2 separate regions of the Homo sapiens genome follow, and region 2 is linked to region 1. The links come from fine-mapping of genetic effects on gene expression. A gene starts in region 1. The other region holds a variant in brackets. All regions are shown on one strand. Distances are between the middles of the regions. Region 1 holds the start of TNPO3 (transportin 3). Region 2 has its middle 25 kb from the start of TNPO3.

What was found.
Region 2: its variant is fine-mapped to the expression of TNPO3 in whole blood (INTERVAL, PIP 0.98).

The regions. Positions count from the first base shown.
Region 1 is chr7:129,048,709-129,064,563 of GRCh38, forward strand. It overlaps TNPO3 (transportin 3), which reads right to left and starts at 6,403. Exons shown (of 23, transcript NM_012470.4): 1 at 5,943-6,403. The coding sequence starts at 6,062. It overlaps LOC124901836 (small nucleolar RNA U13), which reads left to right and starts at 12,823; the gene lies at 12,823-12,926. It also overlaps the pseudogene TPI1P2. RefSeq lists enhancers at 5,936-6,435, 7,247-7,541, 12,484-12,653 and a silencer at 7,247-7,541.
Region 2 is chr7:129,072,484-129,088,338 of GRCh38, forward strand. No RefSeq gene overlaps it. Among named protein-coding and RNA genes, the nearest start is that of TNPO3, 25 kb to the left of the region's middle. RefSeq lists an enhancer at 253-362. The variant C/A (reference allele first, on the strand shown) is at 6,178.

The sequences.
Region 1 (15,855 bases):
GTTTATTTTTAACCATGTATATGGTGAAAAGTGACAGCAAAAATAAATAAAACTCGCAGATAAAGAAAAATGTGAGTTATCCAACTGAGTATCTGCATGTATGCACTTCTGACAATCAACATTTTTAAGAACCTGTGTGTGAAGTGTCTTGATTGTTTATCTTAATAACCATGGTTTATTTCTTCAACTATGGGTATTGGACTACATAAACAAATGTGACAAGAATCCCAGTCTAGTAGGGGAGGCAAAACACTTATTTTCAAAAAGGTTTATAAAAAGGCAAACACAATGAAGTAAAGTTCTCTAGGCATTCATTGGGGGCTGAAATCACTTTTGGCTGAAGAGAAGCAGGTAAGCCTTGAAGGAGAAAGCAGAATTTAGGTTGGGCTTTCAAAAGATGAGTTAGTTTCTGCATTTGAAGAAAGGGTTGGGAAAGGGTAAAAGCAGAGAAGAAAGTAAAGTTGGGCAAAGGCGGCATCCACTCTACCCCAAAATATTTGTGTACTATGAGAAATATTTCAGCTATTTGGATGCTGATGGGAAAGACTCAGTAAAGGAGTCTAAAGATGCAGACAAGACATAGGATAAACCAAAAGATCAAGGTCCCAGAAATTTCAGAAGATTGAGAGATGCAAAGCACCTAGATCTGACAAGAGGAGAAGCAGCTGCATACAACCATGCTGAAGTCTGACCAAATTGGAGGGGAAAGGTGATGGTGTATTTATAAAATGACTAGAATGATAGATCTTGGAATCCACATTTGGTAAGGAGAGAAGTAAAAACAAGAAGACCTAATAAAGAAGAAGTAAGGAACAGTCAATGAACTGAGGTTTTGATAAAATTCAAGAACTAATGCAGGGACTTCTGTTTAAAATGACTAAACTAACTGATTGAACACAGCTGTCTGCTTTCAGGTCCTTCCAAAAATCCAATAAAAATCAGAGTAAAGATCTTTTTTAAAAAAGGCAAAAACACATAAAGACAAAGAAAATGGAAACAGGTGACAGATATCAATAGAACTGTGGAAACTGGAAAGCTAAAGGACAGTGTTAACTGTCTTAGCAGATCCGAAAAGGCTGATATTTGCCTGGGGGTGGGGAGGGAGGATGAGACGAGAATAGGGAAGGCAAGGGACAAACTATTCATGTTGCAAAACCCAGGAAGACTGGGGAATTGGAAGCACAGGTACATCTGAAGGCAGATGCACAGGCGGAACAAAAAATAAAGGAGTGGAGCTGGATGTGGTGGTGTGCACCTGTAATTTCAGCTACTCAGGAGACTGAGGAGAGAGGATTGCCTGAGACCAAGAGTTCGGGTCCAACCTGGGCAATATAGCGAGACCCCAACTTTTCTTTTCTTTTTTTTCTTTTTTTAAAAAGGGTGAGGTGGGGTGGGCTGGGCGCAGTCACTCATGCCTGTAATCCCAGCACTTTGGGAGGCCAAGGTGGGCAGATCACAAGGTCAGGAGACCGAGACCATCCTGGCTAACATGGTGAAACCTTGTCTCTACTAAAAAATACAAAAAATTAGCTGGGCATGGTGGCAAGCACCTGTAGTCCCAGCTACTCTGGAGGCTGAGGCAGGAGAATGGCGTGAACCCGGGAGGCGGAGCTTGCAGTGAGCTGAGATGGCGCCACTGCACTCCAGCCTGGGAGACAGCGAGACTCTGTCTCAAAAAAAAAAAAAAAAAAAAGGGTGGGGGGGGAATCGGCTAGTAATGCAGCCTTAAAACAAAAAAAGAAAAAAGTTTAAATAAATAAAAGGGTCAAAATCTGTGTAAGAAGCAGTAGACTCCTAAATTTCCTCTCTGACTCTGAGCAACCAGGCTACTACTCTCCCACCATAACAGAAGACTCAAGGTTTACTGTGGAAAGATTGAAGTAGGTGGTCTCTGGACTCTTAGACAACAGACTCAGCTAAAGACAGGAGTATCATGCTGAAAAACAAGAGATTAAATTAAAACCTACATACTTAGTTGTGAGATCCATCCCCTGGCTTCATTCCCTGAACTGGCTTTAGAACACTGGCAGTCTAGCTTATAACCCCCAGGCTGACTAGAGAACTCAAGGTAAAAGCAGCCCAAGAAAAACAGACCAACAGAAAAGCAATGAGAGAAAGGATGAAGGTTCCCTTCTCGATGATCCATTAAATGGAAGAGTAACCCAAGAAAACATCATGGAATCCAAGAATCAGTGGATCCAGCACAACAAAGAGGCAAAGGGAATTCCCTAGGACAGTGTTTATGGAATCCCATGACAGTAATTATCCAACAGACCTAGCGAACCAGGCCAGACTGGAGCAGGGAAATGGAGGGCTCTTGGGATACATATTTCCTTTAGCCAAAAAAGAAAACAAATCACCAGTCTGAACAATGAGGATATTTACAGTACTGAGATTTGAGGGTGACTTATTGTGGATACCCAGAAAACAAAATGTTAAAAAAAAAAAGAGGTATTTGATTACCAACAGGAAAAAAAAGGTTCCACAAAATTTTGTTTTAAAAATAAAACTTAAATATTAGTAAAACTACATAAAGATTTCAAAAAAAACTAGGTGACATTATTTGATATTTTTGAGCCAGCAAACTGGAAAACAGTGGGTTATGATCACAGCAGAATGTCTGAATCAGTGATTTGGAGGTGTGGTGACTTTTTTTTTTTTTTTGTACAATCTTGCTGTTTCCCAGGCTAGAGTGCAGTAGCGAAATCATAGCTCACTCAGTCTTGAACTCCTGGGCTCAAGGGATCCTCCTGAGTAGCTGGGACTATAGGCAAATGTCACCACACCCAACTAATTTTCCTATTTTTTTGTAGAAATGAGGTCTCGCTATGTTGCCCAGGCTGGTCTTGAACTCCTGGGCTCAAGGGATCCTCCACCTTGGACTCCCAAAGTGCTGGGATTACAGGCAAGAGCCAATGGGCCTGGCCTGGCTGGCAACTTTTTTGTTTTTTTTGAAATGGAGTCGCGCTCTGTCGCCCAGGCTGGAGTGCAGTGACACAATATCAGCTCACTGCAACCTCCACCTCCTGGGTTCAAGAGATTCTCCTGCCTCAGCCTCCTGAGTAGCAGAGACTACAGGTGCGCACCACCACGCCCAGCTAATTTTTGTATTTTTAGTAGAAACGGGTTTTCACCATGTTGGCCAGGCTGGTCTCAAACCCCTGACCTCAAGCGATCCGCCCGCCTCAGCCTCCCAAAGTGTTGGGATTACAGGCGTGAGCCACTGCACGCCCAGCCTGGGTGGTGGCTTTTTAGTAAAGACAAGATCCAGGGTGTGATTGTGTGACCAGGTGGCTAAAGAGAATGAAGAGGTAAAGGAATCAGAAGGCCAAAGTGTTAGCTGAACTGTCAATCCAGATGCTGAAGTTGCCTAAACGTGATGTGTTACTGCTGGATATTTTCCAGATCCACTTTTCCACCCTCCTCTATCATGTTTTCTGCTCCAATAGGCTGACCTGTATAGACTTTACCAACAGGTCACTGTGCCCCTGGCTTCCGGTTGGGTTTGGCCAATGGGGAATCCCAGCAAGAAATTAAGAGAACAGGGTCAGGATATTCATTCCTCCAGCTTCATTCTCTCAAGGTCACCTGAAACTAGCTATGTCCCTTCGGCTGAAAGTCACCATTCCTCTCAAGGCAGCCAACTCCATACTTTTCAAGTAACTATTCCCTCTTTTATGGGATGTTAACCGTTCAGCTATAGGTTACCAAACTATTTCTTGTCACACCACTATACCTAAATCTTTATAATAGTATCTTTATAAAATAAACTCAGATTATCCTGTCAAGTGTGCCATCTGTTCCTGTCTGGACTCTGACTATTAACTGTGATGGTGAAGATGATGTAAGGTTGTAATAGAGTATTGGAAAGTAAGGAGAGAAAAGTGACTAATACTTAAATAACAATTGCTAACATTTTAATCTCTATGTTCCAAGAACTTTTCTAACCTCTTCGTAGAATATTAACTCATTTAATCACAACTACCTTCTGTGGTAAGCAGAGATTTTTGTCTGGTTCATTTCCAAATCCAAACACCCAGCATAGTTGCTGGCACATGGTAAGCACTCAAATATTGATTTAAAATACACACAACAAGCAGGTTTAATTAGAAAGAGATTACTTTTTTAGTATAGTGTAGCACTTCTCCTAATTACACTTTAGAAAACTATACAAAGATCAGGGAATTGTTGACTCTCCAGAGATCACAGAAACACTAAATGAGACCATATGTGAATGATTTTCTTGTGTAGCCTACAGTGAGTCGTATTCCTTTATTTTCTGAAGAGGACTTGGGTGCCAGTTTTTTAGGTTTAATATTCAAAGTCAAAGTTGCAGCGGGGGGCGATGGCTCACATCTATAATCCCAGCACTTTGGGAGGCCGAGGCGGGCGGATCACCTGAGGTCGGAGTTAGAGACCAGCCTGGCCAACATGGCGAAACCCCGTTTCTACTAAAAAATACAAAAATTAGCTGGGTGTGGTGGCGTGTGCCTGTAATCCCAGCTACTCAGGAGGCTGAGACAGGAGAATCACTTGAACCTGGGAGGAGGAGGTTGCAGTGTGCCGAGATAGCACCACTGCACTCCTCCAGCCTGGGCAACAGAGCCAGACTCTGTCTCAAGAAAAAAAAAAAAAAATTAGTCGGGTGTCAGGGCAGGCACCTGTAATCCCAGCTACTCGGGAGGCTGAGGCAGGAGAATCTCTTGAACCCGGGAGGAGGAGGTTGCAGTGAGCTGAGATGGGACCACTGCACTCCAGCCTGGGCGACAAAGCGAGACTCTGTCTCAAAAAAAAAAAAAAAAAAAAGGCAAAGTTGCTCCATACCAAGACCAGATTTTTAAAAAGTCAAAGTTGCAAATTTTTAAATATTATGCACTTGCAGCCTAGGAGCTGATTTAATAAGGCAGAGCACCTTTAAGTATCAGTTATGAGTTAAAATAAAGGGAAGGGGGCCAAAAAAAATATGGTTGTGAGTATAAAATGCAAAAATAAAGGTAAAGGTGAGTATTTTGTCAGCCTGTAAAAAAAGCCTCTTTAGTTTTCAAAGTACTTAATTTTTAAAGTACATCCTACATTAGAACCTAAGTCAGCCAGATAACCAAGAATACACATTTACACAGAAATGAAGCACAGCAAAGGTGTGAAAATTAGGGCAGGAAGCATAAAACATGAATCAAAGAATGCAGAAATACAACAGATATAAGCTACAATTAAATATCTCACCGGATGCACACACAGTTTTATATGGAATAATCAAAGCAGCAGTGATACCCATCTTATAAATAAAAATCTAAAAGCCAGAGAAATAACAAGGTTAGAGGATTAATATGAAACAAAATGAGAACTCCAAAGATTTTCTGAAAGCAGAATTACTGTTTTTTCTTCATATTATGTTGCCACTCCAAAGCAAGGGGAAAACTCGCATGAGTAAGAATCTAGAAACCTGAGAAGTTTCGAGAAGAACAGACTCAAACTGGAGTGAAAATAGGCAAAAAGAGTGAGGCATAAGGCTACGACTGGGAGCAAAATGCCAGATGCAAGTCTTGGACACGGAGGGGAGACGAATAAAGCCTTCTTAAGCGGAAGGTGGAGAAACACTGGGGTTGGATTTGGTGGGAGGAAGACAAAACGGAAAAGCACGGCCCAAGAAGCAACGGCAAAGGGAGAACTTAAACAAGATTAGATTGATGCCACAATCGAAGAGTATAAGACCTACAAATCAGATTCTGCCGGGTGGGGAAAGGGCCAGTTCGCGACCGATCAGGTGCGACTAGTTTCCCAAAAGCGGCAAAGATGTAGCTTCGCAGCCCCACCCCACGACAGCAGCTCCTCCCCAAGGAGGACCTCACGAGGTCAACTGCCGGGCTCAGGTTCTCCCCCGGAGCCTAGGTTCCACCCCGCCCCGGCCGTGCGGCACAGAACTGCCTCTCTGGGCCCCTCACCGAACGCTGCAGCTCCCCAAGCCAAAAAGAGGCGCGCTCCTTTCCGCTGGGATCTGGGTCGTGGTAAAGCGCCTGCACTGCCTGGTACACGAGCTGCAATGTCGGCTTTGCTCCTTCCATGGTGGTGGCGGTAGTGGCGGTAGCGACGGCTCTGATTCTTCTCCGGAGGATTCCTCGGTTGCTCCGCCTTCGCGCTTCCTCACTGTCTGGGCCACGGCCGCTCCCTGACTGGCGCCATCTCCTCCTCTTTGGCCGTTACCAGGGCAGAAGGCTCTCCGTGGAAGTTGCCCCCTCGGAAACAGCTATTAGGTCGTATTCAGGTTCCTGGCCTTTTTTCCGGTTTTTCCACTTGATTCTAGACTCTTGAGTCCACAGATTCTGGCGCTCCCGTCTTCAGTCGCTGACTTGCCCTCAGAAGCCTATCTTGGGAGGCCACACACCAGTGTACCTAAGGTTCGTTTACCCGGACCGGAAGCGACAGCACCGATACCTTTGGCACACTTCCGCCTGGTACACTACAAACGGCCTCCTTCCCGGCACGCCTCCTCTTGTCTCCCCGCCCCCTCCCGGAAGTAACCCTGCCGGGCCAGGAGCCGGGAAGAAGAGCCGGTGTTCTCTCTGTTCCTCGCTAGCAGCTTGGGACATTAGCGCCGAGATGTGCCCCATATCTGAGCTGCCTTCAGCTCCTTGGAAACGGATCCAGGTTTTTCCTACCCCTTCCGACTGCCCCATCCCTCTCCAGAGAATCCTTTTCTGCCCTGGTGATCAAGGCGCGTCAATTCAACTCTCCCTAGAGTGGCCACAGTACTGGAGATCCAAAGATGACTTAAGACATGGTACCTACGCTGGCTCTAGTGGAGGAGACAGACACGTAGTCAACTGAACTATTTTACAAACCTGAAATATGTGCCACATTGAGATAAATCCAAAATGCCTAGAATCTTTGTTCAGCTCCCCTTTACTTAGTTCTTAAGCCCAAAAGAGGTCTTCATTCTGCTTACAGCTCCTGGTGCTCTAACTCCAGAGCATTTTGCATACATCTTTAGGGTTATTCTCACATTGAACTGTATTTTTGTGAATGCCTTTCTGTCCGAATCCAATACCAGTGGTCTAACAATTCACAAAAGAAAACAGAAATATTGGAAACTGTACTATGGAGAAATTAGGGACAAAAGGTAACAGTATATTGATATTAACATTGCTGCTAGTCCTTTGCACTAGTAAATAACTGCTATTTGATAAATGATCACAATGTGTAAAACACTGTAGTTACAAGATCTCATTTAATCCGCCTAACAACCTTGCCAAGTATTAATAAAACCCGTTTTAGGCGCTGACACTGACCTACAGCGCCTCAGCTCCAGCGCCATGGCGCCCTCCAGGAAGTTCTTCGTGGGGAGGAACTGGAAGATGAACGGGCGGAAGAAATGTCTGGGGGAGCTCATCGGCACTCAGAACGCGGCCACTGTGCCTGCCGACACCAAGGTGATTTGTGCTCTCGCCACTGCGTATAACGAGTTGGCCCGGCAGAAGCTAGCTCCCAAGATTGCTGTGGCTCCGCAGAACTGCTACAAAGTGACTAATGGGGCCTTTACTGGGGAGATCAGCCCTGGCATGGTCAAAGACTTAGGAGTCACGTGGGTGGTGTGGTCCTGGGGCACTCAGAAGGCGTGTCTTTGGGGAGTCAGATGAGCTGATTGGGCAGAAAAGTGGCCCATGCTCTGGCAGAGAGACTCGGAGTAATCGCCTGCATTGGGGAGAAGCTAGATGAAAGGGAAGCTGGCATCACTGAGAAGGTTGTTTTTGAGCAGACAAAGGTCATCGCAGATAATGTGAAGGACTGGAGCAAGGTCATCTTGGCCTATGATCCCGTGTGGGCCACTGGTACTGGCAAGACTGCAACACCCCAACAGGCCCAGGAGGTACACAAGAAGCTCCGAGGATGGCTTAAGTCCAACATCTCTGATGCAGTGGCTCAGAGCACTGGTATCATTTATGGAGGCTCTGTGACCAAGGCAACCTGCAAGGAGCTGGCCAGCCAGCCTGACGTGGCTGCCTTCCTCATGAGTGGTGTTTCCCTCAAGCCCGAATTCGTAGACATCATCAATGCCAAACAATGAGCCCCATCCGTCTTCCCTACCCTTCCTGCCAACCCAGGAACTAAGCAGCCCAGAAGCTGAGTGACTGCCCCTCCCCTGCACATGCTTCTGATGGTGTCATCTGCACCCTATTGTGGCCTCATCCAAACTGTATCTTCCTTTACTATGTATACCTTCACCGTGTAATGGTCGGGACCAGACCAATCCCTTCTCCACTTACTGTAATTGTTGGAACTAAATGTCACCAATGTGGCTTCTCCTTGGCTGAGAGGTGAAAGGGATGGAATTTGCTCCTGGGTCCCCTAGGCCCTAGTGAGGGGAGGAGAGAGAACCCATCCTCTCCCTTCTTACACTGTGAGGCCAAGCAGAAGCCAGGGGTGCTGCCCTCTCCCACGGTGCCAACGCCTTTGTGTGTTGTGTATGTGAGCCATCCCACATGTGAGGGAAATAAACCCCTGGCACTTAAAAAACAAACAAAAAAACGCATTTTAAAGAAAGAAAAATAGTAATGTAATTTGCCCAAGGATACAGTTCTTAAAGTTAGGATTTGAATCCAGATCAGTGTTGCTCCAAAACCTGTTAAATCACACAATCCCTATCATCTTGTGCATTCGTTTGCTTCTGAATTGTTAGTCAAGGAATTTTTAACTGCCAACAACATGATGAAAACAATGTTACTGCACAGAGTTGATACAATTTTAGACAGAAAAAAGAAACTTGATATTTTGGTTACCTAATCCATTCATTCATTAAAAAAAAATTTAGTGCTGGGCTTGGTGGCTCACAACTGTGTAATCCCGGCATTTTGGGAGGCCGAGGCAAGAGGATTACCTTTGAGGCCAGGAGTTCAAGACCATCCTGGGTAATGAAATGAGACTCCATCTCTACAAAAAAAAATGCAAAAAAATTAGCAGGGCATGGTGGTGGGTGCTTCTAATCCCAGCTACTCAGGAGGCTGAGGTGGGAGTATTGCTTTAGCCCAGGAGGTGGGGGTTGCAGTGAGCAGAGATTGTGCCACTGCACTCCAGCCTGGGAAACAGTGAGACCATATCTCAAAACAAATTTTTTTGTGTGTATCAAAGGACACTATCAAGAAAGTGAAGTAACAGTCCACAACATGGAAGGGAATGTGCAAATAACATATCTGATAACTGATTAGTATCCAGAGTATATAAAGAACTCTTACAATTCAACAATGAAAAGACAACTCAGTTTTTGGGTTTGTTTTGTGTGTGTGTGTGTGTGTGTGTGTGTTTTGTTTTTTTGTTTTGAGTTGGAGTCTTGCTCTGTTGCCCAGGCTAGAGTACAATGGCACAATCTCAGCTCACTGAAACCTCCACCTCCTGGGTTCAAGCGATTCTTGTACCTCATCCTCCCACGTAGTTGGGATTACAGGTGCCCACAACCATGCCTGGCTGATTTTTGTATTTTTAGTAGAAACAGGGCTTCACCACGTTGGCCAGGTTGGTCTCGAACTCCTGACCTCAAGTGATCCACCCGCCTCAGCCTTTCAAAGTGCTGGAATTACAGGCGTAAGCCACCATGTCTGGCCTCAGATAATTCAGTTTTTTAAATGGGCAGTGAATTTGAATAGACATTTCTTCCAAGAAGATATACAAATGCACATGAAAAGATGCTCATCATTAGCCCTCAGGGAAATACAAATCAAAACTGCAATGAGATACAACTTCACACCCACTAGAAAAACTAAAATTTAAAAAATGATAAATGCTGGTGAGAATGTGGACAAATCAGAACTCTCATGCACTATTCATGGGATTGTATCATGGTGCGGCCATGTTGAAAAAGTTTGGCAGCTCTTCAAAAAAATGTTAAACATAGAATTATCATATGAACCAGCAGTTCTACACTTAGGTATATACTCAAGAGAAATGATAACGTGTGTGCATACAAGCACTTGCACGTGCATATTCATAGCAGCATTATTCATAATAGACGGCAGAAACAGCCCCAATATCCGTCATTTGATGCATGGATAAACAAAGTGTGCTATATCCATACAATGAAAGGTTATTTGACCCTTAAAAGGAATGAAGTACAGATAGATGCTACAATATAGATAAACTTGAAAAATTATGCTAAGTGAAAGTGGCCAGACACAAAAGGCACATTAATTACGCGATTCTATTTACATAAAATGTTCAGAGTAGGCAAAATTCTAAATATAGACAGTAGATTGGTCATTTCCAGGGTTGGTTTTTTGTTTTGGGTTTTGTTTTTTTTTGTATTGATGGAAATAAATGCTCTGGAATTATTGACGATGTTCAGAAAAACCTCATGAATATATTAAAAACCACTGGCATATGTTTTTTATATGTTTTAAAAGGATGAGTTTTATGGCAATGTGAACTATATTTCAATAAAACTTATTTTTAAAAGTTCTATGGTTAGGAATTATTAAAACACCACATGGATATTTAGCTAACAGTTGGAGAAAAAAGAAAAAAAAATAGAGGTGATACCTAACCCAGAGTAGAGAGATTGGTAACACCATCTGGAGAAATTATGTCTAAACTGAGACCAGACTGATAGATAAATAGGAAGCAATTAGGCAAAGGGTTTAGTATTGTAGGCAGAGGCAACAGTATGAAAGCCTGGAGGCAAGGGAAAAAATTACCTTCTGAAGACTGAAAGTAGCTGAAGGATAGAGTTGACATTGGGTAGGAGTAAGAAATGAAGCTAAACAGTGTTTAACCCATCTTTGTGACCTCATGCCATTACCTGATACATAGTGGGTGCTTAGCAAATGTCTTAAGTGACATGTTTCTTTGTTCCTTAGTCTTAAAAAAAAAAAAAGTCTAGTTTGACATGAAATGGCTTGGGCAGGGAAGGTGGCTAGAACAGAAATAAGAAAAGATTGTAATAATCGTGGTGAGGAGTGATGGTAGCCTGGAGTAAAGTGTTGGCGGTGGGCATGGAGATAGAGAGGTATTTAGGAACTTCAGAGGAAGAATCTTGATATGGTGATTACTTAAGCTGCAAGGTGTGACAAGAGGGAAGAAAACCCAGGCTTTTGAGATATGGAACCTAAAGGAAGAAATGGCTTTTATGGAAACAGAAAGGGATATGAGGATGAAGATAAGTTTAATCTTAGCCATGTTGAATATTGAGGCACTTAACAGACAGCCAAGACCAGCAGGCTGTAGCATGTGTGGGACTGAAGCCCAGGGGGTGGGTTGAAAATCCAGATTTGCGAGTTGTCAGTTTCTAGTTGGTGGCTAAAGACAAAGGAGTGATTGAGACGCGCATCTTTAAGCACCAAATAAATGCACCAGAGATGTCGAATATTGTTAGAAAATACATTTGAAATAAAATATTAGAAATATATAAAATATTTAAAATATCAAAACCCCATAACTTTTGTCATTAGGCACAATGGTAACCCTAGGAAAACTGGACTCTAATGCAAAGTTTCATGAGACCAAACCCACCCCCAACAAAAAGAGCCCTGACTCCTTCCTTCTGCAAGCAAGCTAAATATGGATTCTCTGAAGGAAAGAAGGAAAGAGATAATGAGTGTTTCTTTTACTGACTTGGGGTGAGATTATCCAAAGATTGAGGGCTGTACCTCAAGCACTCCAGTTCTCTACAGGCAATGCCATGAAGCCTTCCATAAAAGCTTTGATCTGGCCAGGCGAGGTGGCTCACACCTGTAATCCCAACACTTTGGGAGGCTGAGGTGAGTGGATCACCTGAGGTCCGGAGTTTGAGACCAGCCTGGCCAACATGGCGAAATCCCGTCTCTACTAAAAATGCAAAAATTAGCCAGGCGTGGTGGCATGTGCCCATAATCCCAGCTACTCAGGAGGCTGAGGCAGGAGAGTCACTTGAACCCGGGAGGCGGAGGTTGCAGTGAGCCAAGATCGTGCCACTGAGCTCCAGCCTGGGCAACAGAGCAAGATTCTGTACCCCCGACCCCCCGCCAAAAAAAAGCTTTGATCTGCCATGAGAAGGCACCCATGATTTGTGGTGAACCTCAGGTTACAATAATAAGCGTAGGTTGTGGCCCCACAGAGGCCTCCTTAATTCTCTTGTAGCCTCTTGACACCCACCCCACCCCACATCATCCTCCAACCTCAGGGTAAAGTGAGCCACTGCACTTTGGGGAGAAGTTGCAAAGGCAGTGTGTCAGAGGCCAGTGGTTTTACTCTAATACCCATTGTTTTCTTTCCTAGAGTTCTTTGAAGAAATATTCTTTTTTTCTCAAGCTAATTCAAATTAAGTTTCTGTCACTTCCACCAAGAATTCTGAAGTCCAACTTCATCAAAATCTTAGCTCGACTTACCATAACAAAATACCAGCTTGAAGAAGGGAAATTTATTTTCTTACAGTTTTGGACGCTGGAAGTTCGAGATCAGGGTACCAGCCTGATCAGGTTCTGGAGAGGGCCCTCTTCCTGGCTTGCAGATCACCACTTTCTTGCTCCTCTTCTTGTAAGGCCACAGTCCTCTTGGATTAGGGCTCTACCTTATACCTCATGTGACCTTAATTACCTCCTAAAGACACTATGTCTGGATACAGTCACATTGGGGGCTAGGGTGTCAACATATGAATTTTGGGGGGACACAACTCAGTCCATAACATCTGTCATTATGCCCACTGGCCTTGGAGAGTTAGTAGAAGGCCCTCATCCTTGCCCGAAAGAATACGATAACATCAGACTTCTTTGGTACACAGATTATAGTAAAAGTTCAGGCAAAGCCATGCTGACTGCACTAGGGACAGGGATATGTTATGCTTCACTGAAAGACAATACCTTGATTCTTTTGTAGCTGATAAGCATGATGACTGGAGTTTCACGTGCATGTGTGAGATATACCTCCCTCCAACCTTGTTACCACATCTGCACATTACCTGCCTGATGTGAACAAAAGAAAAGAAAGATTTTTTTTTTTAAAGACCATGCCTTTGAATTGGATTTCACAGCTCCCTGCTAGGAAAACAAGCAGTCACAATTTTCTCTGGTAGTAACGGGACACTTACAGGATAAAAAGATGTATGCATAAGAATGTTCATCCTAGTGTGGTTTCCCCTAATGAAAAAGTAGAAATATCCTCAATGTCCATCAATAGGCATCTTGATGTCCATCAAGAACTTTAGGATATATGCATGCTTTGGATACTAGACAGCCACTGAAAATCAAGCAGAAATGACTCTCATTAATTTTGTTACATATGGTAATGATATTGGGGCTATATAGGAAAATGTCCTTACTTATTTAGAGGTACAGACAGTCCCCGACATGATTTTTTGACTTTATAGTGGTGCAAAACAGCTACTTGTGGGGGCTGAGGCAGAAGAATCACTTAAGCCAGGGAGGTTGAGACTACAGTGAGCCGAGATCACACCACTGCACTTCAGCCTGGGTGACAGAGTGAGACCCCGTCTCTAAAAAAAAGAAAGAAAGAAAGGAAAAGAAAAACAAAAATCATAAATTGAAAATGCACTTTTTATGTGTGAGATAGGGTCTCACTCTGTCACACAGGCTGGAGTAAAGGAGCGCAATCTCAGCTCACTTCAGCCTCGACCTCCCACGCTCAAGTGATTCTCCTGCCTCAGCCCCTCAAGTGGCGGGGACCACAGGCCTGCACCACCACACCCGGCTAATTTCTTTTTACTTTTGGTAGAGAGGTTTCACCATGTCGCCCAGGCTGGTCTCAAACTCCTGAGCTCAAGCAATCCACCCGCTTTGGCCTCCCAACATGCTGGGATTACAGGTGTGAGCCACTGTACCCGGTCTGCACTTTTGACTTACAATAACTTCAATGTACTATGGTTTTGCATATACTAAAATACTTAGGCACAATGTAGTATAATAAAGAATATATCAAGTCTTCATCCCCCATTCCTGGCACAGTGCTTCAAATGCTCTTGAAATTTTCCAAGTGATGGCAATGCCTTTGTTACAGTAATGAAGTGACTCTGTGCAGACCCCTAGATATCTTCAGGATGAGGTTTGGTGACCAGAAAGACCAACCATGTGTTTAGAAGGTTGGGACTCTGGGCCCCTTGGAACTCTGGTAGGAACTCTAGGAGAGAGAGGAGCTTAAGATGAGTTCAATCATGTGGTCAATTGTTTAATCAATCATGCCTACACTTTGAAACCCCAGCAAAAACTCTGAACACCAAAGTTCAGTGGCTGATCCTAGTTTAACACATTGGTGTGCTGAAATGGTGATGCCCCGTGATTCCAGGAGAGGGCATGGAAACTCTGTCTTCCTCCCAGGCCTCTAACAATTTTTTTTTTTTTTTTGAGATGGAGTCTCACTCCATCACCCAGGCTGGAGTGCAGTGGTGCGATCTCAGCTCACTGCATCTCCACCTCCTGGGTTCAAGCAATTCTCCTGCCTCAGCCTCCCAAGTAGCTGGGATTACAGGTATACACCAACACGCTCAGCTAATTTTTTTATATTTTTAGTAGAGACGGGGTTTCACCACGTTAGCCAAGCTAGTTTCAAACTCCTGACCTCAAGTGATCCACCTGCCTCTGCCTCCCAAAGTGCTATGATTACAGGTGTGAGCCACTGCTCCAGGCCATGTTTTATAATAAAACTTTAATCATAAGTATTATGCTTTCCTGAGTTCTGTGAGTTGTTCTAGCAAATTATCAAGCATGTGGGGACTGTGGGAACCCCTGAGTTTGCAGCCAGTTGGTCAAAAGAGCAAGGGCTTAGGGACATCCCAAAGTGAGGCTGATGTCTGAAATGAGAGCATCTTATAAAAGACTGAGCCCTTAACGCCATGGAGTCTGATACTAACTCTGGGTAAATAACATCAGAATTGGGCTGGGCATGGAGGCACATGCTTATAATCCCAGCACTTTGGGAGGCCAAGGCAGGTGGATCATTTGAGCTCAGGAGTTTGAGACCAGCCTGAGCAACATGGCGAAACCCCATCTCTACAAAAAAAAAAAACAAAAACAAAAAACAAAAATTAGCCAGAAGTGGTGGTGAGCACCTGTGGTCCCAACTACTGGGGAGGCTGAGGTGGGAGGATCACCTGAGCCTGGGAGGCAGAGGTTGAAATGAGCCAAGATCGTGCCACTGCACTCCAGCCTGAACAAGAGCGAGACCCTGTCTCAAAAAAAAAAAAAAAAAGTTGCTGTTTTTTAAATAACCAACAGCCCTTTGAATTGAATTATAGCTCACCTAGTTGGGGTGGAAACAGAACAGGTAAGCTGTTCATCATGTCTATAATTGAGTTTAACATATAAAAACCAAAAAAAAGGTAAAGCAAATATGGCAAAATAATAATGTTATAGGGAATAAATAAATGTGTTTACCATTCTCTCTACTTTTCTATATGTTTGAAGTTTTCCATATTAAAAAAAATTGCTTGATGACTCATGACAGAAAAAAGTAAAAGCTGGAAACAAAATTGTATCAGTTTTTGTTTATTGACACAAAAAGATATCTCAGAAATATTATTGGAAAAGAAACAGGTTATGAATCAGCCTGTTAAAAATGCTTGTTGATACAAAAACATATTTGTATATTGGCAAAGAGAGGGGTTTGGAAGAATAGACAACAAAATGTTAACAATGGTTATCTCTGGTGATGAGATTTTGAATGGTTTATATTTTTTTCTTTTTTTTTTTTCTTTTTTCTTTTTTAAGACAGAGTCTCCCTCTGTCGCCCAGGCTGGAGTTCAGTGGCGCCATCTCAGCTCACTGCCATCTCCACCTCCCAGGTTCAAGCAATTCTCCTGCCTCAGCCTCCCAAGCTGGGATTACAGGTGCTCACCACCACACCCGGCTAATTTTGTATTTTTAGTAGAGATGGGGTTTCACCATG
Region 2 (15,855 bases), 24 kb after region 1:
TTCACCCACTTAAAGTATTACAACTCAGTGGTTTCTAGTATATTCACAGAAATGTGCAACCATCACCACAGTCCATTTAAAAAGGAAGGAAATGTTGACACATGCAACAATACGGATGAACCGAGGACATTATACTAGTGAAATAAACCAGTCGGAAAAAGACAAATATTATTTGGTTCCACTCATAGGAGGTAACTAGAATAGTCAGATTCACAAAAACAAAGTAGAATGGCAGTTGCCAGGGGCCGAGGGGAGGGGAAAATGGAGAGTTGATTTGTACAGAGTTTCAGTTTTGCAAGATGAGGGAGTTCTGAGGACTGGCTGCACAGCGATGTTGTAACCACATTACACCAATCTGGTTCAACTTCTATGTAGCAAAGTTGTGAGTTGTTTTTCAGTGGTCATGGCCCTGCAGGTTGGAGGGGGCAATGCCCGGATGAACATCGTGTGCAACCATGAATGGGAACTAAGTGCTCGGACCAAGGAACCAGGCTGAATTAAGAAGCAAACACCAGGCTGGGCGCTGGTGGTGTACGCCAGTAACCCCAGCACTCTGGGAGACCGAGGCAGAAGGATTACTTGAGCCCAGGAGTTCGAGACCAGCCTGGGCAACATGGTGAGATCCCATCTCTAAAATAAAAAATAAAAATAAAAATAAAAGCAGACACCATGGCAGGACCCATGATCCAATCAGATTGAGCTCTGGGGTGACCCTATGGCAGGATCTAGTCAGATCACTCCTCATTACCCTATGCTAATTAAAATCCAACCCAGCCTCCAGCTCCAGGAGACAGATTTGAACATTTCTTCCTGTCTCTTTGTCTGTCAACTCACAAACCTTTCTCACTGCAAAAACTGTGTGTTTTGGTGTTTGGCTTTCTGTTGCATGCTGGCAAATGGACCCAGTTTTGGTTTGCTGACAATGCGAATATACTTAACACTGAACTGTACATTTAGAAATTGTGAAGATAGTGAATTTTATATTATACCTTTTTTTATTTTGCCACAATAAAAAGTAATTTTCTCTGTCTTTTTTTTTTTAAAGACATATGGCCTCTGTCACCCAGGCTGGAGTGCAGTGGTGTAGTCATAGCTCACAGCAGCCTTGAACACCTGGGCTGAAGCCATCCTCCCACCTCAGCTTGCCAAGTAGCTGGGATTACAGGCATGAGCCACTGTGCCTGGCAAAAGTTATTTAAAAACTTTTTTAATGTCTTTTAAAAGGAGACTTTCTGATGTGGTCAAAGGAAGCAGTTGGTATCCAGATTCAGCTGAACTTAATACACTTCCTTGGTTTAATTTATGGAAATATTTATATAGTTCCCATTTAATTATCCTCCAAGGACATGTCTGCTCAGAGGATCATCCTAGTTCTCTGGCCAACAATAAACAGGAACTGAGACAGAGTGATGGACGATATGACTCTTAGTGTTTCTGTCATGGCACATTGGCCTTTATGGGTCATTGCCCATGTGTTCCAGGATTTAGGATGAATTTTAATATGTCACTCTGCGTGGGCTACGGATTGGGTTTTATTAGGGAAAGTGAAATCTTACAAGGCTGGGTCAACAAGCAAAGGGGAAGCAGGAGTCTCCCATTCTATTCTCCGTCCCATAGAGAAGTATGTGAAGGTCAGGGTCTCAGCTGGATCTGCAGGATAGGTCCATGTTCTGCTGTATTAGTTAGGGAATAAATGTAAGAAACCAGTCTGTGAGTAGGGAACACATGAGTGGTTTGGGTGCTGGGCAGCTTGGATGTAGGGTGCCAGGGGTTCAGAGGAGATGGGAGGAATTCCTGCTTCCCAGTATTTGGAGACCTTGGGCCTGTGGGAAGGTGCAGTCACCCTGTGTGAGGAGGGAGTCTGCCCATGCTGTGGAGGCTGAGCTCCTTCCACCAGGAATAGGCTTACTTGCAGTTCCAGCTGGCTGGCCCAGGTAACCTTGAATGAGCTTCCAGAGCAGCTTCCAGGCAATTCTGCTCATTTCACCACAGTTTCTGAATTCAAAAATAAATAAAAAACACATTTGTCCTATTTGGTGTTCTTTGTTTTCTATGACTCTGCTGCTTTCCTCTTGAAGAATCACTAATTTGCCTACTATAACTGCCTATGTGTGGTCTCCTTTTCAAAAGGCAGCTCTAGGATTGCTTGAGCCTGGGAGGTCCAGGCTGCAGTGAGCTGTGATTGCGCCACTGCACTCCAGCCTGGATAACAGAGCAAGACCCTGTGTCAATAAATAAATAGTTAAGTAAAAAGCAGTTCTTATGAGGGATATGAACAGGCTCCTAAAGAAACACAAAAGACTAATAGATACATGAAAAGATGTTAAGCCTCACCAGTAGTCAATGAAAATGCAAGTAAAGAGCAAAATGGCAGCACTTTTCAATTATATTGGAAACAGTTTGCATATTGAAAAAGATTTGTCTATGTTATCAAGGTTGTGCGGGAAAGGGTGTCATCTTGGAGTGCTGAGGGGAATTCTAGCAATCTATGCCAAAATTTTGAATATCTGTAACCTCTGACCCTCAAAACTACATTCCTAGGAATTTATTCCAACTAGGTAATCTGACAAGTGAGCAATGATAGATGTACAAGATTATTTGACAATGTATTGCCCACATAAGTGAAAAATGGAAACACTATGTACACCTATGGACAGGTAGTTAAATTCTGAAACATCCACAGAGTGAAATACTATGCAGTCATGACAAAGAATGATGCATACTACCATATGCCACCAATTCTAAAATGATTATTTTATGCTTTTTCACAGTTGTTACATTCCATGGCATATCGCAGTTTATTTGGCAGCATTTTTTTCTTTCTTAATGGCACCTAAACTTATAGGGCATTTAACAGGTGATAGCATATTATGTTTCATGAAATATTGTATATTTGCTGACATACGGCTGAGTGGAAAATGGCCTCTCTAACCATATGTAATGTGGTTCCAGTTACATGCAAATTTTAAGATATGTTTATATTGGCAGGGTGTGGTGGCTCACACCTGTAATTCCAGCACTTTGGGAATCTGAGGTGGGTGGATCGCGAGGTCAGGAGTTCGAGACCAGCCTGGCCAATATGGTGAAACCCCATCTCTATTAAAAAATACAAAAATTAGCCAGGCGTGGTGGCATGTGCCTAGAGTCCCAGCTACTCGGGAGGCTGAGGCAGGAGAATCGCTTGAACCCGGGAGGCAGAGGTTGCAGTGAGCTGAGATCATGCGACTGCACTGCAGCCTGGGTGACAGAGTGAGACTCTGTCTCAAAAAAAAAAAAAAAAGATATTTTTATATTTATACATGCATGCACATACCAGAAGTTAGCAGAGACCCCACCCCCACTCCTTCACTGCCTCATTTCTTGGGATTCCCGGCAGAGTTTACACAGATTCCCTGCTAAGGCCACAGGCTGTCGAAATCCAAAACTATCCTTGTAGATTTCTGCCAGCCCCAGTGCTCCTTTTCCCATGGTCTCCCCTCCTGCCATCAGAGCTGCTTGCAAGGAATCCCACGTAGAACTCCCTATCATGTAGATGGAGCAACTCAGAGCATTCATGAGGTATTTCTGGAAATGCTTGGTGACCATTTGGAGGTGGCAGGGAATGGTCACATGGGCAGGTCACAGCTTTTCTGTTCCTATTAGCTTCCTCTTTCCTTCTTTCACCCCTTTCTGGAAGGAGTAAAAGAATCTCTTCTCTTCATCTTGTGTGTAGAATTCAGGATGGAAGCCTGGCTTAAGGGATATTTCCTCCTTTTTGGCACAGTCTCCGAAAATGTCAACGTTTCAAAGTGTTTGAAGGCAATACATTGACACAATGGTTGTTGAGACTATGAGAAAGAATATTTGAGAAAGCAGTGTGTCTTAGTCCATTTGGGCTACGATACCATAGACTGGGTGGCTGATACACAACAGAAATTGATTTCTTACAGTTCTAGAAGCTGGGAAGTCCAAGATCAAGACACAGGCAGATGCAGTGTCTGGTGAGGGCCCATTTCTTGGTTCATAGATTGCAGCGTCTTGCTGTGTCTTCACATGGTGGAAGTGGCCGTGAGGTTCTCTGGGGCCTCTTTTATAAAGTTACTAATTTTATTGATTAAGTCTCTGCCCTCATGACCTCATCTCTTAAAACTCCCACTTGCTCATGTCATCATATTGGAGATGAGGTTTCAATGTATCACTTTTGGGGGCACACAAACATTCAAACCATAGCACAGTGTGAAAGTAACACAGTGAGAAAGCTAGAGAAGTTTTCAAAAACTGGTGTGTTTTTAGGTGCCTGCCAGCTACCACCCCCAAACAGTGCAGGGAGGCTGTTTCCTTTCTTGGGTGTTCTACTGACCACTAATTTTTACCTCTAACCCAAACGTTTATTAAAATATTTTCTTCCAGTTTTCATCAAACTTGAACTGTTGCTCTGTAAAAGACAATTTTAAAAGAATTAAATAATAAACTACAGATGAGGCATAATATTGCAAATCACATACATGGCAAAGAATTTGCATCTGGAATATATAAAGAACTCCCAAAATTCAGTCATAAGAAATGGACAAACAACCCAATTTAAAAATGGGCAAAAAACTTGAACAGACAATTCACCAAAGAAAATATATAGAAGACAAATAAGTACATGAGAAGATGTTCAACATCATTAGCCATTAGGGAAATACAAATTAAGATATCACTACACACTTAATAGAATAATAAAAATAAAAAATAACAGGCCAGGAATGGCAACTCACGTCTGTAATCCCAGCACTTTTGGAGGCTGAGGTGGGCAGATCACTTGAGGCCACGAGTTCAAGACCAACCTGGCCAACATGGTGAAACTCCATCTCTACTAAAAATACAAAAATTAGCTGGGCCTGGTGGTGCACACCTGTAATCCCAGCTACTCAGGTGGCTGACGCACAAGAATTGCTTGAGGCTGGGCGCGGTGGCTCACACCTGTAATCCCAGCACTTTGGGAGGCCAAGGCAGGCAGATCACAAGGTCAGGAGATGGAGACCATCCTGGCTAACGCTGTGAAACCCCGACTCTACTAAAAATACAAAAAGCTTAGCTGGGTGTGGTGGCGGGTGCCTGTAGTCCCAGCTACTCAGGAGGCTGAGGCAGGAGAATGGCGTGACCCCGGAAGGCGGAGCTTGCAGTGAGCCGAGATGGAGCCACTGTACTCTAGCCTAGGCGACAGAGCGAGACTCCTCGCTCGAACGCTTGAACCTGGGAAGTGGAGGTTGCAGTGAGCCAAGATTGAGCCACTGCACTCCAGCCAGGGCAACAGGGCAAGACTCTGTCTCAAAAGAAAAAAAAAAGATATTAGGAATAAATAGTGCTGACGAGAATGTGAAACAACTTCAACTCATACATTTCCGGTAGGAATGGAAAATGGTACAGCCTCTTGGAAAACAGTTTGGCATCTTATAAAGTTAACCATATACCTACCACATGACCCAGCAACCCCACGCTTACGTATTTACAGAAATGAAGACATAGGTGCACACAAAATTCTGCATGTGAATGTTTATAGCAGCGCTATTCATAATTGCCCCCAACTAGAAATTATCCAGATGTTCTTCAGTGGCTGAAACTATAAAGAAACTTTTTATTTTTTTTTTGAGATGGAATCTCACTCTGTCGCCCAGGTTGGAGTGCAGTGGCGCTATCTCTGCTCACTGCAAGCTGTGCCTCCCTGGTTCAAGCGATTCTCCTGCCTCAGGCTCCCGATGAGCTGGGATTACAGGCACCCGCCACCACGCCCGGCTAATTTTTATATTTTTAGTAGAGATGGGGTTTCACCATGTGGGTCAGGCTGGTCTCAAACTCCTGACCTTATAATCTGCCCACCTCGGCCTCTCAAAGTGCTGGGATTGCAGGTGTGAGCCACCGCACCCGGCCAAGAAACTTTTTGCACTGGTACATTCATACAATGAGATACCAGTCAACAATGGAAAGAAACAAATTATGACACTGGTAACAACTGGGATGATCCTCAGAGGCATTACACTGAGTGTGAGAAGCCAGTCTCAAGACTTACATATTGACTAGGTGCAGTGGCTGACACCTGTAATCCCAGCACTTTGGGAGATCAAGGCAGGAGGATCACTTGAGACCAGGAGTTTGAACCAGCCTGGGCAACATAGTGGGATCCCATCCCTACAAAATATGCAAAAATTAGCCATA[C/A]GTGGTGGCACATACCTGTAGTCCCAACCACTCTAGAGGCTAAGGTGAGAGGATCACTTGAGATCAGGAAGTCAAAGCTGCAGTGAGCTATGTTTGTGCCAATGCACCTCCAGCTTGGGCAACAGAGCAAGATCCTGTCTCAAAAAAAAAAAAAAGTTACACATTGTATGATTTTATTATATGACATTCTCGAAAAGACAAAACTATAGTGTTGAAGGACATATTAATGATTTCTAGGGATATGGAATTGAGGGGAGGATATAATTACAGAAAGATAGCATAAAGCCAAGCACGGTGGCTCATGCCTATAATCCTAGCACTTTTGGAGGCCAAGATGGGAGGATTGATTGAGCCCAGGAGTTCGAGACAAGCCTGGGCAACATGAGACCCTGTCTCTGCAAAAACCTTAAAAAATTAGCTGTGTGTGGTGGTGTGCACCTGTAGTCCTAGCTACTTGGAAGACTGAAGCGGGAGGATCACTTGAGCCCAGGGAGGTCAAGGCTGTAGTGAACCATGATTATGCCACTCCAGCCTGGGTGACAGAATGAGACCTTGTCTCAAAAGAAGATAGCCTAAGAGAGTTTAGAGGGGTGATGAAGCCATTCTGTATGCTGATTGTGGAGGTGGTTAAAAGAATCTGCATGTGTTAAAACTTGTAGTACTTTTAAAAAAGGGTCAATATTGCTGTATGTTAATTTCTTTGTTAATTTTTTAAATTTTAATTTTTTTATTTTACTTTTTGGACACAGGGTCTTGCTTTGTCACCTAAGCTGGAGTCCAGGGGCATGTGATCACAGCTCACTGGCAGCCTTGACCTCCTGGGCTCGAGCAATCCTCTCACCTCAATTCCCTGAGTAGCTGGGACTATGGGCATGCACCACCATGCCCAGCTAATTTTTGTATTTTTAGTAGATACAGGGTTTCACCATGTTGGCCAGGCTGGTCTCAAACTCCTGACCTCAAGCGATCTGCCTGCCTCAGCCTCTCAAGTGCTGGGATGACAGGCATGAGCCATCACCCCCAGCCTTCTTTGTTAATTTTTTAATAGAAATAGGATCTTGCTATGTTGCCCAGGGTGGTCTCAAACTCCTGGCCTCAAGTAATCCTCCCAAATCCTTGGCCTCCCAAAGCGCTGGAATTACAAGTGTGAGTCACCTCGCCTGTTCTGTGTGTTAATTTATAAGGCAAAAATTTTAAAACTTCATCCAAAGGAATACAGAGCTAAGCAAAGAATTCTCAAAAAAGAAACACAAGATGGTGGTCACAAGTTTCCTCTGGGGAAGGATGCTGTAAATCAAGGAAAGTAGAAAGACATACTTTTACAGGATTATACACTTTTTACTATTTGAATCATTTATCATGCATGCATGTTACCTTTCCCTCCTGCAAAAAAAAAAAAAATTATATTGAAACACAAGAGGAACACAAGCCTTCCCCTCTTACATTCTGATGATTACAATTTTCCCCCTCTAATTACATTTGTACACTTCTATAAATGAGGCCAGCTAGGGAGAGCACCAAAATGTGCAGTGATCGGCCGGGCGCAGTGGCTCATGCCTGTAATCCCAGTACTTTGGGAGGCTGAGGCAGGCGGATCACCTGAGGTCAGGAGTTTGAGACCAGTCCGGCCAACATCATGAAACCCTGTCTCTACTAAAAATACAAAGATTAGCTAGGCGTGGTGGTGCAAGCCTGTAGTCCCAGATACTAGGGAGGCTGAGGCTGGAGAATTGCTTAAACCTGGGAAGCAGAGGTTGCAGCGAGCCGAGATGGTGCCTTTGCACTCCAGCCTGGATGACAAGAGCAAAACTCTGTCTCAAACAAACAAACAAAATGTGCAGTGATTACCTCTGAGCAATGGATTTGAAGGAGTTTTGTTTTGTTTGAAACAGGGTCTCACTCTGTCACCCAGGTTGGAGTGGAGCGGCACGATCACAGATCACTGCAGCCTCCACCTCCCTAGCTCAGGTGATACACCCACCTCAGCATCCCAAGTAGCTGGAACTACAGGCAAGCACCACCTGTAGCCAAGGCCAATTTTTGTATTTTTTGTAGAAGCAGGGTCTCAGTATGTTAATTTATAAGACAAATATTATGTTGCCCAGGCTGGTCTGGAACTCCTGGTCTCAAGCAATTCTCCTGCCTCGGCCTCCCAAAGTGCTGGGATTACAGGTGTGAGTCATTGTGCCCGGCCTTAAGGAGATTTTTACTTTCTTCTTATACTTTTCTATTTTTCTCTACCAGCATATATGATATTTATGTTTTTAAAAGCTATTTTCATTGTGGAAAAAAAAGAGAACATATTAGGGGGAAAACCACAAGCTCACAGAGGACAAAAACCATGTTTTAGTGCCTCTGGGTACTGTAAACTATCTGACATGGTACAGGTGCTGAGTATTCTACCAACTAAGACATTTTGCTTGAAAGTTATAGACAAGGTCCATCCTGGCTAACACGGTGAAACCTCGTCTCTACTAAAAAATACAAAAAAATTAGCCGGGCATGGTGGCGGGTGCCTGTAGTCCCAGCTACTTGGGATGCTGAGGCAGGAGAATGGCGTGAACCCGGGAGGCGGAGCTTGCGGTGAGCAGAGATCGCGCCACTGCACTCCAGCCTGGGCGACAGAGCGAGAATCCGTCTCAAAAAAAAAAAAAAAAAAAAAAAGTTGTAAACAAGGTGTAATTATAATGGATATTGATCGTATTTCTTTATATTAAACTCTGAATACCACAGGTGTTCACAGAATAATAATCTACTTTAGAAAGGAGTTTTACCATTTGCATTAAAAGCTTTAAGGCGAGCAAGACAGCTATGAGTTTGCTCCACTTTACAAATGAATGAGGAAACTGAGGTTTAAAGGTAGTTACTGGCAATAACAGAATTTAGACCAGTTTCTTGATACCAAACCTAATATATATTCCAAGACACTCCCACTGTCTCTTCCCAGTTCTCAAAGAACTATAATAAAATGAAAATAGCTAACTCTGACACTGTTTTCAACATATTCTTCGAACCAGCAGAGAGCTGATTGATGTCATCTAAGGGAAGTGGTTTGGAGCTGGAAAAGTCTCCTTCAGGGCAATCACCTTTTTTTTTTTTTTTTTTTTTTTTGAGATGGAGTCTGCTCTGTCGCCAGGCTGGAGTGCAGTGGCGTGATCTTGGCTCACTGCAATCTCCGCCTCCCAGGTTCAAGCGATTCCCCTGCCTCAGCCTCCCGAGTAGCTGGTACTACAGGTGCGTACCACCATACCCAGCTAATTTTTTATATTTTTAGTAGAGATGGGGTTCCACCATGTTGGCCAGGATGGTCTAGATTTCCTGACCTCGTGATCCACCCACCTCGGCCTCCCAAAGTGCTGGGATTACAGGCGTGAGCCACTGCGCCTGGCCAGGCAATCACACTTTTCAGGATCAGAACTTCCACCCTGAAGGACCACAGGTTCACCCCTGGCAATACACAGCGAGGACCAGACTCTGAGAACAGACTCACATTGGAAAAGGGACATAGGAGGCTGAGGGAGACGCCGGGCTGCCAATTCACTCATTGACCATGATAATTGGGACTGTTACAGGGTCAGCTACTTCTCCCCTACAAGTCTCTCTCTGCAGCATATTCTCTCTGGTCGGTAGGTCGCCATGAAAATGAGAAAGTTGACTGCCAAGTGGCCATGGAAAACACATGGAAATTAGACGAAGCCCCAGGGTTCAGTGGTAACAGGTGAGGCTAAGATAGCCTAGGCCAGTCATCCTATAATAGAGGTGGTCTCACCAACAGGTTACTTACTGCAGAGTACTCACATCCCATTGGTTACAACCTCCTGCCTCCACATCTCCATTATAAGTTGTTTTGTCATTTAAAGGCTGTGATTTCCTTTGTGCCCAATACATGGATGGGCAATGCCTATGTCCACCTCCCAGAAGTGTCCTCTTCCAAGAATCCATGCTAAACAATGCCCCTTCTAACAAACAGATTTTTTTCAATCTTTTAATTTAAACAATCAAATCCTAGGAGCCAGGCTTTTTTGTCACATGCTAATTATATATTGATCTTATTATTAACTTTCTATGATTAGGACGGGCACGGTGGCTCACGCCTGTAATCCTAGCACTTTGGAAGGCCAAGACAGACCGATCACTTGAGGTCAGGAGTTCGAGACCAGCCTGAACAACATGGTGAAACCCTGTCTCTACTAAAAATACAAAAATTAGCCTGGCATGGTGGTGCACGCCTGTAGTCCCAGCTACTCGGGAGGCTGAGGCACAAGAAACACTTGAACCTGGCAGGTGGAGGTTTCAGTGAGCCAAGATCGAGCCACTGCACTCCAGGCTAGGTGACACAGCGAGACTCCATCTAAAAAAAAAAAAAAAAAAATGATTGCTAATTGCCCTCTGATGTAATAATTCCCCTTCCTCTTCTTTTTTTTTTTTTTTTTTTTTGAGACGGAGTCTCACTCTGTTGCCCAGGCTGGAGTGCAGTGGCGCAATCTCAGCTCACTGCAACCTCCACCTCCAGGGTTCAAGCGATTCTCCTGTCTCAGCCTCCCAAGTAGCTGGGACTACAGGCCTGCACCACCACACCCAGCTAACCTTTTTTGTATTTTAATAGAGACGGGGTTTCATCATGTTGGCCAGGATGGTCTCATGACCTCGTGATCCACCCACCTTGGCCTCCCAAAGTGCTGGGATTATAGGCATGAGCTACCTCGTCCAGCCGGTGTTTTAGGTTTTTTCTGTTATTATCAAACTGAATTCTAACTAATATTCATGATAATTTTATTCCTCTTACTTTTAAGTTCTTGTGGTCCCAAAGTACAATAGTAAATTTAAGATTCTAGGCTGGATGTGGTGGCTCACACCTGTAATCTTAGCACTTTGGGAGGCCAAGGTGGGAGGGTCACTTGAGCCCAGGAGTTTGAGACCAGCCTGGGCAACATAGCAAGACTTCATTTCTATTAAAAAAAAGAAAAAAGAAAGATTCTGGAATGCTTCAGACTCCGTGTTATACAAGCTTTCTGACAGTGTGATGAATCAGGGAGGAGTGAGTTAACAAATTTCTGACCAGACAACTGACCGGAAAAAACAGCTTGTGGAGTGCTCAGTATATCATTTCATTCCTCAGGTTCACGTAACAAATGTTCAGAAGCTCAGAGCATATTTCATTCCCATGCGATTAATCTTACCCCCTGCACTACTTTTGTATCTCCCCTTAGTAACAGGTTCACCCTACCTTCAATGTCTACAGGAGCTACGGAAAGAAATGCAGAACGAAGATAAATCACCCACCAGAATTGTTAGCAAGAGAAGTGCTGGCAGCAATAGGTCCTCTTACAAAGAAGAAACTTAGAATGAAGCTTTTCCCAAACAGCCTGAAAGGTTCTTTTATCCTCCATAAGTAGCTGCTCACCCAATTTTTGACAAATCCTCATTTTTGCTTCAAAAATAAATAGCAAACACTTACCTATATTTACCATATGCCAGGAACTGATCTAATCATCTTACATATATTATTATTATTGAACAGCAATTTAAATTAGGTTTTTTTTTAAAGGTGGTTATTTTTATTTTTTGCAATGCCATGGTTGTAGGAGTGTATGAAGAGGTAACACATCTCCTTTTCCTTGACTATGCTTTTTTTTTTTTTAACCTTCTGCACAAAGGTAAAGGTTTTTGTTAATCTCATAGTTAATGGTATAAAACAGAGGTCATGCCGGGCGCGGTGGCTCACGCCTGTAACCCCAGCACTTTGGGAAGCCTAGGTGGGTGGATCATGAGGTCAGGAGTTCAAGACCAGCCTGGCCAAGATGGTGAAAGCCCGTCTGTACTAAAAACTACAAAAAAAATTAGCTGGGTGCGGTGGCAGGTGCCTGTAATCCCAGCTACTCGGGAGGCTGAGGCAGGAGAATTGCTTGAACCTGGGCAGCAGAGGTTGCGGTGAGCCGAGATCACGCCATTGCACTCCAGCCTGGGCAACGAGAGTGAAACTCCGTCTCAAAATAAATAAATAAATAAATAAATAAATAAATTTTAAGGGATATGGTTTGGAGGGAGCTTTCAGGGTAAAAGTATAGTGACATGACAAAGGGGAGGTGACAGAATATTGTAGAGTCCTTTGTATTCTTTCAAAATAGCTTTACTGAGATATAATTGACATACAGTAAACTACATGTTTATAGTGTAATTGGATAAGATTTGACATACATATACACCCGTGAAACCATGACCACAGTCAAGATAATGAAAATAGGCCAGGCACGGTGGTTCACAGGAATCACTTGAACCCGGCAGGTGGAGGTTGCGGTGAGCTGAGATCATGCCACCGCACTCCAGCCTGGGCGATAGAGTGAGAGGCTGTCAAAAAAAAAAAAAAGATAATAAAAATAAATATCAGCCCCCAAAAGTTTCCTTGTGTCCTCCTGTGATCCCTTCTTCCTGGAAACTTCCCCCAAACTCTCTCCTCAACCCCCCATTGTCCCTTATCTGCTTTCTGTAATTATGGATTGGTTTATATTTTCTAGAATTTTATAGGAATACAATCGTACAATATTTATTCTTTTATTTCCAGTTAACATAGCTTTTATTCAAAAGTCCTTACTCTTGTCTGGTTTATTTCACTTGGTCTAATTATTTTAAGATCTATCCACATTACTGCATGTACTTTAAGTGGGTGAGTCGTACGCTATTTGAATTATCTCTCAATAAAGCTGTTACTAAAAACAAACCACAATGAGATATCACTGCGCACCCATTCGGATGACAAAAATTTAAAAAACAGACAAAAGCAACTGTTAGTGAGGGTAGGGAGAAATTGGAACTCTCATACCCTGCTAGTGAGTGGACTTGTATAATGATGCAGCCACTTTGGAAAACAGTCTGGCAGTTTCTCAAACATTTAAACATAGAGGTATCTTTTGACCCCAAAATTTCACTCCTAAGTGTATATACCCAAGAGAAATGAGAAAATGTGTCTACACAAAAGCCAGTATATGAATGTTCATAGCAGCATTATTCCTTATTTATTATTATACATTTTTTTGAGGTGGAGTCTTGCTCTGTCGCCAGGCTGGAGTTCAGTGGCGTGATCTTGGCTCACTGCAGCCTCCGCCTCCTGGGTTCAAGTGATTCCCCTGCCTTAGCCTCCCAAGTAGCTGGGATTATAGGCATGCGCCACCACGCCTGGCTAATTTTTTGTATTTTTAGTATAGATGGGGTTTCACCATGTTGGCCAGGATGGTCTCCATCTCCTGACCTCGTGATCCGCCCACCTCGGCCTCCCAAAGTGCTGGGATTACAGGCGTAAGCCACTGCGCCCAGCCTATTATTATTATTTTTTGAGACGGAGTCTCGCTCTGTCACCCAGGCTGGAATGCAGTGGCGCGATCTCGGCTCACTGCAACCTCTGCCTCCTGGGTTCAAGTGATTCTCCTGCCTCAGCCTCCAGAGTAGCTAGGATTACAGGTGCCCACCACCACACCCAGCTAATTTTTGTATTTTGTTTAGTAGAGACAGGGTTTTACCATGTTGGCCAGGCTGGTCTCAAACTTCTGACCTCAAATGATCTGCCTGCCTTGGCCTCCCAGAGTGCTGGGATTACAGATGTGAGGCACGGCAGCTGGCCAATGGCAGCATTATTTATAATAGTCAACATGTGAAAAGAACTCCAATGTCCACCAACTGAGGAATGGATAAACAAAATGTGGTCTATCCATACAGTGAAATATTATTCAGCCATAAAAGGGAATGAAGCACTGATACGCGCCACAACACAGATTAACCTTGAAAACATTCAGCTAAGTGAAAGAAGCCAAACACACACATACCAACCCCACATATTGTATGATTCCATTTTTATTTATTTTTATTTTTATTTTTTATTTTTTCAGACAGGGTGTCACTGTCACCCAGGTTGGAGTGCAGTGGCACAATCTCAGCTCACTGCAACCTCCACCTCCCGGGTTCAAGCAATTTTTCTGCCTCAGCCTCCCAAGGAGTTGGGATCACAGGCATGCGCCACCACACCCAGCTAATTTTTGTATTTTTAGTGGAGATGGGGTTTCGCCATGTTGGCCAGGCTGGGCTTGAACTCCTGGCCTCAAGTGATCCGCCCACTTTGGCCTCCCAAAGTGCTGGGATTATAGGTGTGAGCCACCATGCCCAGCCTGATTCCATTTTTATGTGAAATGTCCAGAATTGGCAAATAGAGACAGAAAGTAGATTAGTGGTTGCCCAGGTCAGAGTGAGGGTGGCTGGGGGCAATGAAGGTGACTGCTAAAGGGTACAGAATTTCTTTGTGGGGTAATACAAATATTCTCAAATTGATTGTGATGGTGTTTGCACAACCCGTACATATACTAAAAACTACAAAATTACATATTTAAAATGGCTAATTTTTACCTATGTGAATTATATCTCAATAAAGCTGTTACTGAAAAAATGTTCACTTACTGAGGTCATTCCATTATATGAATATACTTCAGTTTGTCTAGCCATTCATTTATTGAGTCATTGGATTGGCTCCTATTTTTGGCTACTAAAAATAAAGCTGCAGACCAGTGAAGTACTCACACCTGTAATCCCAGCACTTTGGGAGGCCAAGATGGGAAGATGGCTTGAGGCCAGAAATTCGAGACCAGCCTGGGCAATATAGCAAGACCCCATCTCTACAAAAAATTTAAAAATTAGCCCAGCATGGTGGCTTGCACCTGTAATCCCAGCTACACAGGAGGCTGAGGTGGGAAGATCACTTAAGCCCAGGATTTTGAGGCTGCAGTGAGCTACGATCATGCCACTGTACTCCAACCTGAGCAACAGAGCGAGACACTATCTCTAAAAAAAATAAAATTCGGCCGGGCGCGGTGGCTCACGCCTGTAATCCCAGCACTTTGGGAGGCCGAGGCGGGCGGATCACAAGGTCAGGAGATCGAGACCATCCCGGCTAAAACGGTGAAACCCCGTCTCTACTAAAAATACAAAAAATTAGCCGGGCGTAGTGGCGGGCGCCTGTAGTCCCAGCTACTTGGGAGGCTGAGGCAGGAGAATGGCGTGAACCCGGGAGGCGGAGCTTGCAGTGAGCCGAGATCCCGCCACTGCACTCCAGCCTGGGCGACAGAGCGAGACTCCGTCTCAAAAAATAAAAATAAAAATAAAAAATAATAATAAAAATAAAAAATAAAATTCAGGCCAGGTGCGGTGGCTCACGCCTATAATCCCAGCACTTTGGGAGGCCGGGGCAGGCAGATCACAAGGTCAGGAGATCAAGACCATCCTGGCTAACACGGTGAAACCCCATCTCTACTAAAAAATACAAAAAATTAGCCGGGCATGGTGGCCGGCACCTGTAGTCCCAGCTACTTGGGAGGCTGAGGCAGGAGAATGGCGTGAACCCAGGAGGTGGAGCTTGCAGTGAGCCAAAATAATGCCACTGCACTCCAGCCTAGGCGACAGAGTGAGACTCCGTCTCAAAAAATTAAATTAAATTAAATTAAATTAAATTAAATTAAATTAAAAAATAAAGCTTCAAGCCAGGTGTGCTGGCACCTGCCTGTAATCCCAGTTACCTGAGAGGCTGAGACAGGAGGATCACTAGAGCCCTGGAGTTCGAGTCCAGCCTGGGCAACATAGCAAGACCCTATCTCTTAAAAAAAGAGCTGCTATGATTTTTATTTGTCAATTATGCCTCAA